Linked DNA regions of Homo sapiens: region 2 is linked to region 1. Evidence: fine-mapped expression QTL. Tissue or cell type: whole blood. Region 1 holds a variant in brackets; the other region holds the start of a gene. All regions are shown on one strand. Distances are between the middles of the regions.

The links. PIP is the estimated chance that this variant, and not a neighbour inherited with it, causes the effect.
Region 2: VPS36 starts here. The variant in region 1 is fine-mapped to the expression of VPS36 in whole blood (INTERVAL, PIP above 0.99).

Annotation. Positions count from the first base shown.
Region 1 is chr13:52,476,233-52,484,433 of GRCh38, forward strand. CKAP2 (cytoskeleton associated protein 2) reads left to right here. Exons shown (of 9, transcript NM_018204.5): 9 at 1-395. It overlaps LINC00345 (long intergenic non-protein coding RNA 345), which reads right to left. Exons shown (of 3, transcript NR_184203.1): 3 at 6,250-8,052. Among named protein-coding and RNA genes, the nearest start is that of CKAP2, 25 kb to the left of the region's middle. The variant G/C (reference allele first, on the strand shown) is at 4,501.
Region 2 is chr13:52,445,686-52,453,861 of GRCh38, forward strand. It overlaps VPS36 (vacuolar protein sorting 36 homolog), which reads right to left and starts at 4,949. Exons shown (of 14, transcript NM_016075.4): 1 at 4,814-4,949. The coding sequence starts at 4,909. RefSeq lists an enhancer at 4,535-5,115 and silencers at 4,636-5,095, 5,136-5,195.

The sequences.
Region 1 (8,201 bases):
TTTTTATGTTCATTCCACTTTGTATATCTTTTCTATTTATTGACTTCTCATGTTCTAGAGAGTAGGACTTTTATTCCGTGTACCTGATATATATACAATTAAAATATCTGTGTAATTATGTTTTAATGAAGTTTATTTCAACAGATATTTTATGAAATGCAGTTTAACCACAGTGAATGAATTTTAGCTTTGCTTTTGAAATACATTGTAAGATTTGACTTGAGGTTTTTGACACTTAAGTACATGCTTAATGATATATTTTCAAAAGTCATCAGTCTACTTACATAAACTTTACCTAATTTTTTTCACTTTAACAAAAACATAACTATGCCCTTGTTTTTTCATACTTTGACCCAAAATATGCCATTTTGAAATAAAATTTAAGCTTTGATACACTCTCAGCTTTTTAATATCTGTACCATATAATTCATTTGTCTGTATAGCAGAGTTTGAAATGCCTCTGTTAGAGAACTCAAGATACAACTTTTATGTTTGGACAAGTTTTTAAGAGTGTTTTTTTTCCTCCTTTACCTGAGGGGAAAATCTGTCTCTAAATATTCCTAGTTCTAACATTCAACCAGAGGTCTAACCCCTTTTCTGGTGCTTAAGGACAGCTATGTTATCTCTCCCCTAGGTTTGTTCCAAGCTAAATGATGTGATACCGTGCATAAGCATCCAGTAGAGACATAACAGGGACCCCTCTTAAGGGCCCGCTTGGATCTTCCCGTGTATAGTAATAAAGGAAAAATCTTGAGTCTCTTCAAGGGAAATTCCAGGTAGCTACCTAGCTAGCCTCAAAAAAGTAAATTGAACATCCTGGAATAAGGAAAAAAATGTTTCGTTTCCTATAGTAATGAAAGAACATCTTGACGCTGAATTTTTTGGAAACCCAGATCCATACCAGATAAAAATGCCAACCACTGTCAAGTGGACCTCAGGTAAGGGGAAACAGGACTGAACTCTAAACCACCATTCTTGTCCGTCTCGGCCTCCCGAAGTGCTGGGATTACAGGCGTGAGCCACCGCACCCGGCCACAGGACTGTTGGTAACACTAAATGAGACAGTGTAAGTAAAGGGCCCCATGAGTGGCCCACCATCCTCTGAGCTTCCAATGCTATGTGGCCAACATTTTGTTTATTCCTAGATTCAACTTCCCTTTGCATTGTGACATTAGCTTTTTTGATAAATTCTACATATGTGTTTGTTTATTGTCTGTATCCCAACCAGTCAAAACCACCATGATATGCCTGTACTTGCTCTATTGAGAATAGATGTTCTTTCTTTCCAATTTATAGCAAAGATGGAGTCAGTGTAGGGGGTGAGTTGGTAACACCTGTTTCACAACTCTAGGGAGCAATATTCTCACGGACAAGAGTGAAAGATGGCCTCTGAGAGACTGTGCAACTTCACATCCTGGCTTTGTATCCTCCAACCTACACACCTATCTGTTTCTAAGCCTTTTTTTCCTACTTTTTCTTTACCTCTTCTACCTGTGCTTAGGAACTCATGCTTTCCCTTTAGCATCAAGCTTCTTGGAGAAGGAGAAGTTATCTACTCCATTGCTCCTCTTTTATTAGCAATTTTCTTCCTCTTTTCCATTCACTCTTCAATTAATTGCAGTCTAGCTTTTGCTTTCCCTAGATTGAAACACATTCCAGAAAAATCAGTTTAATTACATGGCCTTTGCACTTGCTCACTGAAACCTTTTATCACTCTATTACATTAGATTCATACCTCTCCCAACCCTAATTCCATATCCTCCTTACCTGATTTATTTTTCCTCAGAGCACTTATTCAATTAAATATTCACGTATTTATTTGCTCATTGTCTGTGTTCCCGACTAGAATCTAATCCTAGAGGGCAGGGATTTTCATTCCTTTTTCTTTTTTTGATATGCAATCTTGCTCTGTGGCCCAGGTTGGAGTGCAGTGGCATGATCTCGGCTCACTGCAAGCTCTGCCTCCCGGGTTCACGCCATTCTCCTGCCTCAGCCTCCTGAGTAGCTGGGACTACAGGCACCCACCACCATACCCGGCTAATTTTGGGTATTTTTAGCAGAGACGTGGTTTCACCGTGTTATCCAGGATGGTCTCGATCTCTTGAACTCATGATCTGCCCGCCTCGGTCTCCCAAAGTGCTGAGATTACAGGCGTGAGCCACCGCGCCCGGCCAGGATTTTTATTTTCTATTTTGTTCACTGCTTTATCCCCAGTGCCTTGAATAGGAGATGCACCTAATGGGTGCTTCATGCATATTCACTGACTTGGACAAATAAATGCATTTTCTTATCTCCAGATTCATTGTGTCCTTTTCCATGTCCTCCTTGACTTCTCAGGGACACTTGACACTTGCTTCTGTGAACTTCCATGACCACACTCTCTCTTGGGTTCCTCCTGTTTTCATACCACTTTCTTATTTCCCTTTGCCAGCTTCTTTTCTTCTTACTCTTAAATATTGGCCATTCTGGTGTTGTCCTTGTTATCTTTCTCTTCCTACTCTATGCTTTTCCAGACAAGCTTATCTACACTTGGGGATTCGAATACCATCCACAAGATGAGAATTCTCAAGCATATATTTCCAGCTCTTGACTTTGCTCCTTCCATCATTGAAATGGCCCTCCCATGTTGAATCCCAACACACTTTTTTCCTCCCCAAACTGCTCTGTATTTAGGTTAAGCACCAACACACAACTGATTCCCCAAGTCAGAAACTTAAGAGTCACCTTGAACTTCTTCCTTTCACCAGCACTCTGAAGCAGTAGGACATCAAACTGTCCGTGTTATCCTGGCTCGCTCTATACCCATTGCACCGCCTTATCATTTCTTGCTTGTCCTGTTTCATTAATTTTCTAAAATTCCCTTGCCTCCTTGTCTTGCCTTCCTCTAATTCATCCCACACGTGGCAGCCAGAGCGTTCATTTAAAAATGCCAACCTGTTCATGCTTCTCCCCTTAAAGAGTCCCCATTTTTGTGATTCTCAGCTGTCTGCAGAAATCATCCAAACTTCTTGGCACAGTATGGAAGGCCCTTCAAGATCTGTCACATCTTTTACCCTGACACAAATATTCTGCATATGGTATGGACTACTTATAATTCTTTAAAGAAGCCACACTCGTTCTTATCTCCTCTGTACATGCTGTTCCCAGTGTACTTTGTACATGCTGTTCCCAATGCAGAGATGCTGTTCCATGCTTTGTCTATCTGGTGAGCTCCTACTCAGGTCTTCCCTGATATCCCCAGGCAGAAACAGAAGCTTCCTCTGTGTCCTCTCCTACAAGTACCTCATTACAGCACTGATTGCATTTGCAGGAATTGGTTTTCACATGTCTCTCTTCCTCAAGCATCTGTGAGCCCCAGGAGGGAATAAACTTCATTCTAACCATCTTCTTGAACTTTTTTCTTGGCACAGAATTTTTATTCTGGTTTATTAAGTTGAACAATAAAAATACTACTCTTCATCATTACCTCACATTTAACATGAAATTCTCATTTAACATGTTCCTAAGACACTTTCTCGGTGGCCCAGGATTGGGCGGTTGCTATTCAGTGCAGAAAGGGAGATGCCATCTAAGTGTGGTGGCAGAGTGTAGCTTGTCACCCACCAAGAAGCCCGAGTTATTGTCTCTTGGCCTCTATGGACTTTATGAGGCGTTTAATCCTTCAGGCTTCAGTTTCCTTAACTAAAATGAGGAGAGGAATAACCTGAGTTCTGAGATTAAACAGAAAAGTGGAACTAAAGTATCAGCCATACTCTGCTTTGGCAACCAATTTATAAACTTTACCATCCTAAAATAAGCTCTGTGTTTTTTGTGCAATTATAATTTTGTATATTCATTTAATGTGTACCGGAGTTGTAGGCAGTCATTTTATTATTTTTATTTTTATATTTTTTAGAGACACGGTCTCATTCTGTCATCCATCCTGGAATGTAGTGGCTTGACCGTAACTCACTGCAACCTTGAACTACTGGGCTGACAGTCCTCCTGCCTCAGCCCCCTGACTGCAGGCATGCGCCACCATGTCTGGGTAATTTTTAAATGTTTAGTAGCATTGAAATCTCACTATGTTGTCTGGGCTGGTGACAAACTCCTGGGCTCAAGCAATCCTCCTGCCTCAGCCTCCCAAAGTTCTGGGATTATAGGCGTGAGCCACCACGTCCAGCCCTAAGTGGTCATTTTAGGTCATAAACTCCATAAGGGCCAAAGGCCTTTTGACTCTCCACATATGGTTGAGTAGAGTACCTGCACTCCACATATATCGGCTGAACTGACTTGTATAGTGTTCAGAATAACTTTATAGCAATTTCAGAAATACAAGATGAGAAGCAGATTTGCTGTGATTTTAGTTATAAATAACAAGGAAAAAATGTTTTGCTCCTGGTAAATGAAAGGCACCAGTTTATCCAAAGGACTAAGAAAGGAAACTGACGCCTTGATTTGCTAAATCCAAATCCTTTTGGTACAACAGGGGTGGACAAATGGAAAAACCTGCCCTAGATG[G/C]CTTTGTGATATTTCGTTATGCTCAGAGTAGGTGCTCTATAAATACCTGTTGGATGAATGTTGCATGACTGCAGTTCCTCTATAGCTTTAATGAGTTCCTAAGAGCAGCTAGCCATATCCCTTAATAGTACCTTTCTGCTGACAGCAGCAAGCTATGTATGGTGTTAGTACGGTTGCTAGATGATGAAGCAGGAGAGAGGTCAATTCTGAATAAACATCTAGGAATTTAGTAAGAGAAGTTGAGCAAAGAGCTGTATAAAACAGCTCTGGATTCCAGTTAATGTAAACTTCATTCAGTTAGGTATACTAACTTTTTAAAAAACAAAGGCTGATGTCTGGTTACCTGAGCACTGACTCAGGCCCACACGTGAATTTTGGACAAAACATTTTAATTTGAATTCTTTTTTGACGGGGCTGATGCAATCCAGTTTTCCAGAGTTTCTAACACTCCCTATTATCTTGCTTTACTCATTTACATAACCTGTGAATCTCCTGAAACTTCTTCCTGGCTTAGAGGAAACTGAAACTAGAAAGAGAAACCTTTGGATGGCAAACTGGTCTAAAGTTACAATTTAGTCTTCAAAATTGGTTTAACCAAGCTTTCAGAGCGGATGGGCATGTTTCTTTATCTAATTTGTCTTACAGTTTTGTTTACTGCGACGATCTGTGAAAGACTTAAAAAAGAAGGGCTCATGATGAGTAATTGTCCAGGGCCCCTTACACATAGGCGTATTTTCATTAATTAAGAATTGTTGGCCGGGCACGGTGGCTCACGCTTGTAATCTAGCACTTTAGGAGGCCGAGGCAGGCGGATCACGAGGTCGGAAGATCGAGACCATCCTGGCTAACATGGTGAAACCCCGTCTCTGCTAAAAAATACAAAAAAAAAAAAAAAAATTAGCCGAGCGTGGTGGCGGGCACCCGTAGTCCCAGCTACTGGGGAGCCTGAGGTAGGAGAATGGCGTGAACCCAGGAGGCGGAGTTTGCAGTGAGCAGAGATCGCGCCACTGTACTCTAGCCTGGGAGACAGAGCGAGACTCCGTCTCAAAAAAAAAAAAAAAAAAAAAAAAAAAAAAATATATATATATATATATATATATATATATATATATATATATATATATGTGGGCGAATAAATGAAAAAATCTACTCAGTACACTGATGAAATATTAACTAGTAAACTACTCACCATCAATCCCAGCAAACGTTTCTCCCTGGGGCCAACAATTTATTACATGGAAGATCGTCTCCCTTAAGAAGATGTCTTACAGGCTGTAGTTTCTCTTCTATAAATAAATTATGTTTTTCAAAATATCAAGAGCTATGCTTCATTTTTGAAGAAATTTGTAGTTCTTGGGCCTCATATCTCTATCTAGCGAAGCAAATTGGTAATACACCAATTAAGATACCCGGGTATGAATATAAGAAACACAGTTGTGAAAAAATTATTTATAGAAAATTACCCTTCCTTTTCCAAGGTTCAAAAACCTTGAATTGTATCTACTTTATATTTTCTGGAGTTCAGCAAGTTCTTTCTTTTCCGGATAGCCTATTTCTAAATATCTGGACAGTGTCATGCTATTGGAAAATATATGGGTGTATATAAAACTTATGATTAGCTTGTTTTTCACCACTTTTAAATCAAAGAACCGTTGATATTTGTTAACACGAATGTTATTTAGATATGTTATAGTATAATGTGAATAAAATTTTTGTAAATTATGCTAACAATCCTACCAATTTAACAAATATTTATAAAGGGTTTTTTATTTTTGTTTTTTGTTTTGTTTTGAGATGAAGTCTTGCTCTGTCACCCAGGCTGGAGTGCAATGGCGCCATCTTGGCTCACTGCAACCTCCACCTCCCAGGTTCAAGTGATTCTCCTGCCTCAGCCTCCTGAGTAGCTGGGATTACAGGTGCCCCCCACCGCACTTGGCTAATTTTTGTATTTTTAGTAGAGATGGGGTTTCACCATGTTGGTCAGGCTGGTCTCAAACTCCTGACCTCGTGAACAATCCACCTTGGTCTCCTAATGTGCTGGGATTACAGGGGTGAGCTCCCACGTCCGGCCTCATTTTTGTTTTTGTTTCCTTCAACTTTTATTTTAAGTTCTGGAGTACATGTGCAGGATGTGCAGTTTTGTTACATTGGTAAATGTGTGCCATGGTGGTTTGCTGCACAGATCAACCCATCACCTTGGTATTAAGCCCAGCATCCATTATCTGTTCTTCCTGATGCTCTCCCTCCCCCCATCAGGCCCTCCCCGCAACAGGCCTCAGTGTGTTTTCTTCCCTGCCATGTGTCCATGTGATCTCATCATTCAGCGCCCACTTATAAGTGAGAACATGTGTTGTTTTGTTTTCTGTTCCTCTATTAGTTTGCTGAAGATAACAGCTTCCAGCTCCATCTGTGTCCCTACAAAGGACATGATCTCCTTCCCTTTTATGGCTGCATAGTATTCCATGGTGTATGTGTACCACATTGTCTTTATCCAGTTTATCATTCATAGGCATTTGGGTTGATTCCATGTCTTTGCTATTGTGAATAGTGTTGCAATAAACATACAGGTGCATGTATATTTATAACAGAATGATTTATATTCCTTTGGGTATATATCCAGTAATGGGATTGCTGCGTCAAATGCTATTCCTGCCTTTAGATCTTTGAGGAATTGCCATACTGTCTTCCACAAGGGTTGAACTAATTTACATTCCCATCGACAGTGTAAAAGCTTTCCTTTTTCTCTGCAACCTTGCCAGTATCTGTTGTTTCTGGACTTCTTAATAATTGCCATTCTGACTGGCATGAGATGATATCTCATTGTGGTTTTGATTTGCCTTTCTCTAAAGATCAGTGATGTTAAGCTTTTTTTTTCCATATGTTTGTTGGCCACATGAATGCCTTCTTTTGAGAAGTGTGTGTTTATGTTCTTTGCCTACTTTTTAATGGGGTTGTTTTTTTTCTTGTAAATTTGTTTAAGTTCCTTATAGATTCTGGATATTAGGCCTTTGTCAGACAGACAGATTGCAAAAATTTTCTCCCATTCTGTATGCTGTCTGTTCACTCCGATGATAGTTTCTTTTGCTATGCAGAAGCTCTTAGGTTCAATTAGATCCCATTTATCAATTTTTGCTTTGGTTGCAATTGCTTTTGGTGTTTTTGTCATGAAATCCTTACCCGTGCCTATGTTCTAAACGGTATTGCCTCAGCAATACTCAGCCTCAGCCCAGTTCTGTGCCCTTGCTGGAGAGGTGTTGCGTTCATTTGGAGGAGAAGAGACACTCTGGCTGTTGTGTGGTCTCCCTGATGTCCTGGAATGTCCTAGCCAATTGAGTGATGGTTTTTCTCTCCAGTGCATCCTCCCTGACCAGCCAGCTCTTCCTTCCCCAGCTCTTGCCCTGCAGTGACTCTGAAAGCTTGTTGTTCCATTTACTGCTTGCACTCACTTTATTTCACAGAGTAAAAGGTGCTTTGCAAACATAAGTTTATGTTGTTTGTCTTCAGCTCCCCCTGTATTCTCTCACCATGTCATTGGCGTGGAGAAGCAGGAACCTAAACATGGGAAGTGAACATCAAAATATGTCATGATCACAGTGTGCTTCAAGGTAAATACCACTTCAGCACGATATCCATTTGTATAAAGCTTAAAAATAACTGTCACAAAGTAATATATTTTCAGATATATCTATATTTACATCTAC
Region 2 (8,176 bases), 31 kb before region 1:
CCAGCACTTTGGGAGGCCTAGGCGGGCGGATCACGAGGTCAGGAGATCAAGACCATCCTGACTAACACGGTGAAACCCCGTCTCTACTAAAAATACAAAAAAAAAATAGCCGGGTGTGGTAGCGGGTGCCTGTAGTCCCAGCTACTTGGGAGGCGGAGGCAGGAGAATGGCGTGAACCCGGGAGGCGGAGCTTGCAGTGAGCGGAGATCGCGCCACTGCACTCCAGCCTGGGCGACAGAGAAAGACTCTATCTCAAAAAAAAAAAAAAAAAAAAAAAAAAAAAGGCCGGGCACCTTGGCTCACGCCTGTAATCCCAGCACTTTGGGAGGCCGAGGCAGGCAGATCAAGAGGTCAGGAGTTCAAGACCAGCCTGACCAACATGGTGAAACCCCGTCTCTACTAAAAATAAAAAATAAAAAATAAAAAAAAAAATTGCCGGGCGTGGTGGCGGGCGCCTGTAATCCCAGCTACTGGGGAGGCTGAGGTAGGAGAAACGCTTGAACCCGGGAAGCAGAGGTTGCGGTGAGCCAAGATCGCACCACCGCACTCCAGACTGAGCAACAGAGCGAGATTCCGTCTGAAAAAAAAAAAAAAAAGTACATAATGCTGCATTATAGAACATATAGTTCTGATTAAGAAACTTCGTATGTTATCTTACTGAAATCCAAGCACATACATGTTAATTTAAGGCTGGAGCCAGCCTATGTTCCACTGCTACCTCAATTAACAATGTGCAAATGTAAAATGTTGCTGCTCTAAGTGAAGAAATTGTGTAACAGTTCCCTTTCAGGATTCCAGTGGATTAAGATCTAAACCTGATAGTCAAGTTTAGGCTGGTTTGCTTACACCACTCAGAACCTAGAATAATTTTAACTGCTTAAAAATTGATCTAACTTCAGCACTCACTGAAAAGTTCTTAACCTGCTTTTTTTTTTAATTTACATTTTTTCTGTTATAAAAGTCATACATGTTCAGTGTTGAAAATCTCGAAAATATTTAGAGCCTGAAAAAGAAAATGAAATAATAACTCATACCAGCCAGAGTGTGTATGTATATATACACAGATGTTTATGTATACATATATAACCTTTAAATAGAATGATAGGTTTATAACTATTATTAATAGTATAGTTAGAAAATATAGTTAGCAGCCTATCATTGGCAATTCCTCATGCTAATTAGGGCATGCCATAATTTTTTTTTTTTTTTTTGAGATGGAGTTTCTTGTTGCCCAGGCTGGAGTGCGATGGTGCGATCTGGGCTCACAGCAACCTCTGCCATCCGGGTTCAAGCCATTCTCCTGCCTCAGCCTCCCAAGTAGCTGGGATTACAGGCACCCGCCACCACGCCCAGCTAATTTTTTGTATTTTTAGTAGAGACGGGGTTTTACCATGTTGGCCAGGCTGGTCTTAAACTCCTGACCTCAGAGGATCTACCCGCCTCAGCCTCTCAAAGTGCTGGGATTACAGGCATGAGCCACCACGCCTGGCCCCATGCCATAATTTAATTAACCAATCCCTATGGTGGACATTCAGATTGCTTCCAATTTTTCCATATATAATAATATTATATGTAATACATAATAATGCTGAGATGAGCATTCTCATATGTAATATTTTTATGCATTTCTGATTATTTCCCAAGGGTAAATTCCTAAAAGTGAGTTAGCTGAAAAAGAATAAACAATTTTCTAAATCTTCTGATATATGCTGCCAACTTGCCACTTTACACATTACTAACCTTACATTATTTTTTAAATTGGCTGAGGCTACAGAAGTGTCTGTGAAGTCAAACAAATGACCTGTCTACACTGCTTATGAAAGTAACACATTATCTAGTCATAATGAGCCCATGAAAACTGTGCCTGTATAAACAAGCGAGTCTGCATGTATTCATAAGAGGCACTTGGGCGTGGGAAGAGCAGTCCATTGGATCTGGTTTGCAATTCTAGCTCTACCAGTTACTAGTTGTGTGACCTTAGACAGCTCACAGTTTTCTCAGCTATCACCTGTGGGGTCTCAGTTCCCCATCTTTGGGAAGATTAGCTGTATTAAACATTATATCAAGGGTGACACCGGTGACTGCTACATTATGAAGTCATTTTTTTTTTTTTTTGAGACAGAATCTCGCTCTGTTGCCTAGGCTGGAGTGCAGTGGCACAATCTCGGCTCACTGTAGCTCCATGAACAAAGCACAGGCTTTGAGTCTGATCAACAGAGATTTAAATCTTCTCTCTGTGGATCTTAGGCAAGTCACTGTATCTCTTGGCGTTACTTTCTCATTCAGTAAAATACCTCATATTCTGATGAGAGGATTAAATGAGATGATATATACAGCTCTTGGCTCATAGTACTTTAATTATTCGGGTTTAAAAAAAATGTGTTTCACACCCACAACCAGCTAGGAGATACAAGGATGAGCAAGGCACACCTTCTGTGCTCCAGAAACATCAGACTAGTCTAGAAGACAGCCATGCACATGCTTGCCCAGGGAATGGGTTGGGATGCAAAACTATGAATATTAAGCAATCTGGACTGCAGTCCCTAGGCCAAAGGAGCCAGTGAGGCATCCTAAAAGGGAGACTAATTTCACCAGATTTGGGGGCTAATGTGTGTAACCTTGTAAAGTCTCTAGCACCACAGGAGGTCTGGAAACCTTCCAAAAGATGAAGGAAGCCAGGATACCGCACCTTCCCCCAGGAGTCAGCCTGTGCCCCATTCAGCCTAGGGACCGCATAGCTGCAAGGCAGCTCAGCAAGTCACTAAGTCCAGCTTTGGGGCACAGTGGTAAGGAGACTCCTCTTAGAGCTCCACTCCAATTTCAAGCTTTTAGAAGAGTTAATTCTGGACTAGATCACAGGGTCTAAAGCAATGTTTTCCCCATGATTTGTTTCTTAAACCTCTGACATCTATATACTTGTCTGCTAATACAAGCAGCAAAAATTTTAAAGTAAAAATTAAAACTTGCTGCTTCAACAATGTATCTTTCATATAAAACTACTAATGGTTGTTATTTTACACTGTTTTAAATCTATCACAGCTATACTGCCTGCCAGCAAAGGTGTTCCTAGTCTTCAAATTGGAGTTCCATAGAACAGTATCATGCCATGCTCTGCAAAAGCATGACTTCCTAGTGCTCCCTCAGGGAGTGGCACTGGAGGAGTCTCTGAGGACAGATCTAACACTGTCAACATTCGGTTCCTCTCAAAGGGGAGGCAAAATCAAAACACCGAGGAAGGGGAGGTGGATTAACCTTCCCATTTTAAATAGTCACAAAGATGTAAATTGGTAAGAAAGGAGAAAAAAATAGCTTGTCACTCCAATCCGGGGATGGAAGACTCATCTTGAGATCAAGATAGTTAAAGTGCCAAGGCAGGCTGGGCACAGTGGCTCAAGAGCCTGTAATCCCAGCTGTTTGGGAGGCCCAGGCGGGCGGATCATTTGAGGTCAGGAGTTAGAGACCAGCCTGGCCAATGTGGTGAAACCCCGTCTCTACTAAATATGCAAAAATTAGCCGGGCATGGTTGCAGGCGCCTGTAATCCCAGTTACTCAGGAGGCTGAGGCAGGATCTTGAATCTGGGAGGCGGAGGTTGCAGTGAGCCCAGATCGCGCCACTGCACTCCAGCCTGGCGATAGAGCGAGACTCTGTCTCAAAATAAATAAATTAATTAATTAAATTAAGAAGTGCTAAGGCAGTAAGTGAAGTTAGGTCCAAGCAAATTATTTAAGGAAAAGACCTTTACTCACTAATACAGGCAACACAGCCCATAGAAAATGCCCTAAGAGAGTCAGAGGACCTGGGTCCAATGTCACCTGTGCCTCTAAATAGCTGTAAGCACTTACCAGGAAAAGCTGAGTTGAGGAACTTATATCAAAGTACAGCGGAAAGTGTCGTTAATAAAACGGCAAGGGAAGAGAGGTAGCAAATTAAAACTTCTGGAAACCAAAAATGCTTGTGGGTAAATGAGTTTTAAAATTTTTCTAATTCCAGTTTATCCATTTCAATCCAGGACAAGATATTTCATAGTTTCAGTAAAGTATCTACAAAATATTTACTTACACTTCCTATTTCTCCTCTCGATTTGCAAACGCACCTTCTAAGATTTATGCTTGCACTACAAGGCACGGTCTACTATTAATATAACACTTTACAAAACACGCTCAGAACGCCTTTCTAAAGCAATTAGAAAACAAAACAAAAACCCAATAGCCTTTGGCAAGGGCATTCCAATGAAGCACTGATACCTCTTTAGGAAATCCTTTCGAAGCAATCCCTCACCCCTCTGCCCAGATATGCTAATCCCTCCGACTGCATAAGGTCCAAGCTAAAGCTTCCGCTGGGGCACGGACTGTACGGCCACCGCGCCCTCCTCACAGAAAGGCGAAACGGGGCTGTCCGGTGCCGACGCCGAGGTTGGTGTCGTCAGGGGGTCTGGAACCACGCCAAGGAAGTCGACTGCCGGATCGCCGCCCGGCGCCCGCAGACGGCGAGCGCTCCTTCTCCCGGGCACTGCAGCTGTGCGCTCCCGGAAGCATTCCGGGCGGAGGGAAGCGGCCGCGATCCGCGCCTGCTGGGAACCGTGCCAAAGTTGGGACCCGCGCTGGGGAGGCAGCCGAGCGCCCCACGCCACGTGCTACCGACCGGCGGGGAGCGCAAGAGCGCTGCACCCCGCACAGAGGCCTGCCGGGCCGCCGAGGGCCGTGAGCTAAGCCGGGGACCGGGCCGCGCCGACCCGGGCCGCGCTGAGCCGGGCCGCGCGCCCACCGGGGGTCCCTTCCGCCAGCCCGTTGGGAAGGTTGGCAGACGCCCTACCTTCTCCTCGCCATCGTAGATTCGCACCCCGCGCTGCTGGATCACCAGGGTCTCGTTGATCTCCAGGAGGCCGCTGGTCCAAACGAAGCGGTCCATGGCCGCTGCCACCCAGCCCCGGCCCTCCGAGGCCGCGAGCAGCGCGCCAGGCAGCCTGCGGCGCCCCCTAGCGTCGGACGGGACGGAAGCGAGTCGGGGCGGGTGAGGGACGGAGGGAGCGGCCTGGCAGCGAGCGGGCGCGGCTGCGAGGTGCGCCCGGGGACGTGGAGACGTGCGTGGAGCGCCCCCTGGCGGTCCATTAGCCGCCGGCCTTTCAGAACCCTTGATCAGCAGGCGGTCCACCCCATTCTAAATTCAGAGCTTACAGGGACGCGAGGGAGCCCCGACCACAGCTTGGACTTGCTTATTGTGCATTATGCCTGCATGTTTGTGGCAGTTTTCTTGTCAGTGCCCAGAATGTTGCTACATTCGCTAATGATTGTAAATAATCATAACCCCTCTCTTTCAAATGAATATTTATGGCACGCATTGTTTCTGTACAGCTGCAGTCAGTACTACCTGTGCTGCTCTTTTTTTCCCTTTAAGATTATATTGTAACACAAAGGATAAATGCTTGAGGTAACGGATACCTCATTTACCCTGATGTGATTATTATACAGTGTATGCCTGTATCAAAATATCCCATATACCCCAGAAATATATACACCTATGTACCCACACAAATTAATTTTTTTTTAACTGGGGGAAACAGATTTTATTTAACCGGGCTTGATGCGCGCGCCTGTATTCCCAGCTGCTTCCGAAGCTGAGGCGGGAGGATTGCTTGAACCCAGGAGTTTGACACCAGTGGGCGACATAGAAAGACCCTTTCCCCCTCCACCCCAACTCCCCCACGCCACTCCACTCCCCCACCCCCAGGCTCAGAAAAAAAAGATTATTTTTATTTAGGCATTTTCAATATTAATACAGACCTCATGCGTGAATTTACATTTCAATATGTAGTTCCTCTATAATTTAGCTGTTTGTTGGTCTGCGCAAAGCCATCCATGGCCGCTGCTCTCACCCACCAGGCGGCCTCGTGCCCCTAGCCATTTCATTTTTGTATTTTGCTTTATAAATGGAACACCTGGCCGGGCGCGGTGGCTCACGTTTGTAATCCCAGCACTTTGGGAGGACAAGGCGGGCGGATCACAAGTCAGGAGTTCGAGACCAGCCTGGCTAACATAGAGAAACCCTGTCTCTACTAAAAATACAAAAAATTAGCCCGGCGTGGTGGCGGGTGCCTGTAATCCCAGCTACTCGGGAAGCTGAGGCAAGAGAATCGCTTGAACCCTGGAGGTAGAGGTTGCAGTGAGCCGAGATCGCACCATTGCACTCCAGTCTGAGCGACAGAACGAGACTCTGCTTCAAAAATAATAATAATAAATAATAAATAAATAAATAAATGGAGCAGCTTATAGATGTCCTTCTACAATTGATACATATTTTTCTCTTTAGGATTATTTTCTTACAGTGTCTTCCTAAAATAGAATGACTGCTTTAAAGGTTGTGAACACATTTTAGAGAGCCTACCACTTATTGGGGTCTTAACTAAGGCTGCGTGCCCACGTGGGCAGAGGGGCACAGGGGCAGAGGGACAGAGGGCAGGCTTGCTCTCTGCCCCCAGGGCTCCACATTTCCCCCAGTCGTGGAGTCAGTGGTCTGTGGCTAGGCATTAAAAGAAAGGAAAGGCTCTTTCCAATGAGTATAAGCCATCTCTCCCCCGAAATGAATTGCTACTTTTACCGTGTTCCAAAATCCTGTGTGTATTTTGGTCTATTTCTAAACAGTGTCTTCTGTATTTCATATCTTTCAATTTCCATCATGACCATATACCCAATAACCAAAAGTTCTTTGAAAACATTTGATTTGCTGTAATATGCTATCAATATATATCACAATTTACCATCATTGCCTGATTTTTGAGCATTTGATTGTTTACCAACTTTTTAGTCTTTTTTAATTGAAAGTAATGTGACCTAAGCATCCTAATCAGATGTGGAACTGTGCAGTTATGCCTGGGCTTTGCAATTATCAACATGTTAGGCAGTGAGGACATTTGCAAGGTATGTTTTCTGCCCTTGAGGGATGTACAGTCTGTAGGACACAAATAGAAGCCTGGCATATGATAGCTGCTGGGATAGACAACCGTATAAGGGTTTCCTGTATCCAGGCTGGAGCAAGGAGAAACGTCATGTGGCTTATATATGGCAATAAATGAATAGACAAAAGGTTTTAATTTTTATGAAGTTCAGTGTATTTTTTTCTTTCATAGTTCATGGAATTTGCCTATTTAAGAAATCTTTTTTCCACAAACCAGATATTGATACTGATTATGAAATCTTTGCCTAACACAAAGTCACTAAGATTTTCTCCTATAATTTCTTCTAGAAGCTTCATAGTTTTGGTTCTTACATTTAGGTCTATGCTTTTTTTTTTTGAGACAGAGTCTCACTCTGCCGCCCAGGCTGGAGTGCAATGGCACAATCTCGGCTCACTGCAACCACTGACTCCTGGGTTCAAGCGATTCTCCTGCCTCAGCCTCCCGAGTAGCTGGGATTACAGGTGCCTGCCACCACGCCTGGCTAACTTTTGTATATTTTGTAGAGACAGGGTTTCACCATGTTGGCAAAGCTGGTCTTGAACTCCTGACCTCAGGTGATCCACCCGCCTTGGCCTCCCAAAGTGCTGGGATTACGGGCATGAGCCACCACGCCCAGCCATCCCCAGGATGTTTTTGCCAGGACCTCCCACCTTCTGAATCAGATGGTTCCTTTCAGTCCCAATCCTACTGGACCTCTGTAGTGCCCAACACTGTGGTCCATTACCTCTTTCTTCAGCTTCTCTCTTCCCCAGACTTTGTGACCCCATTGTGTCCCCATTGTCCTCCTAACTTTCAGATTGTCCTTCCCTGTTCTCTCACAGGCACTTTACCTTCTTCACATGACCACAGGAGGAACGACTAACACTAATTAATCATCAGTACTCCAGGTGCCTGCAGTTTCATGGTCAGCTGTGTTGGCAAAGAACTGTTCTGAAAGGAAATCTTTTTTGTTTTGTTTTTTTTGTTTGTTTTTTGGATCTTTTAGAAAAAGGTCTGCTTTCTCTGCAATAATTGTGTAGCAGTAATATTAAAAAGTGTCTCAAAAATAGACATATCATTGGAGTGGGTGAGTCTGGAGATTAGAGGAGAATTGCCATTTTGAAAAACCTAGCAGTTTGGCAGGTTTTCCTATTCATCTCAGCCTACTGAGATCTCCATGGTATCCTTTGAGTCAATTTCTTTTTTTACCATGCCCACTTATAAAAAATTATTGAGGTTCACAT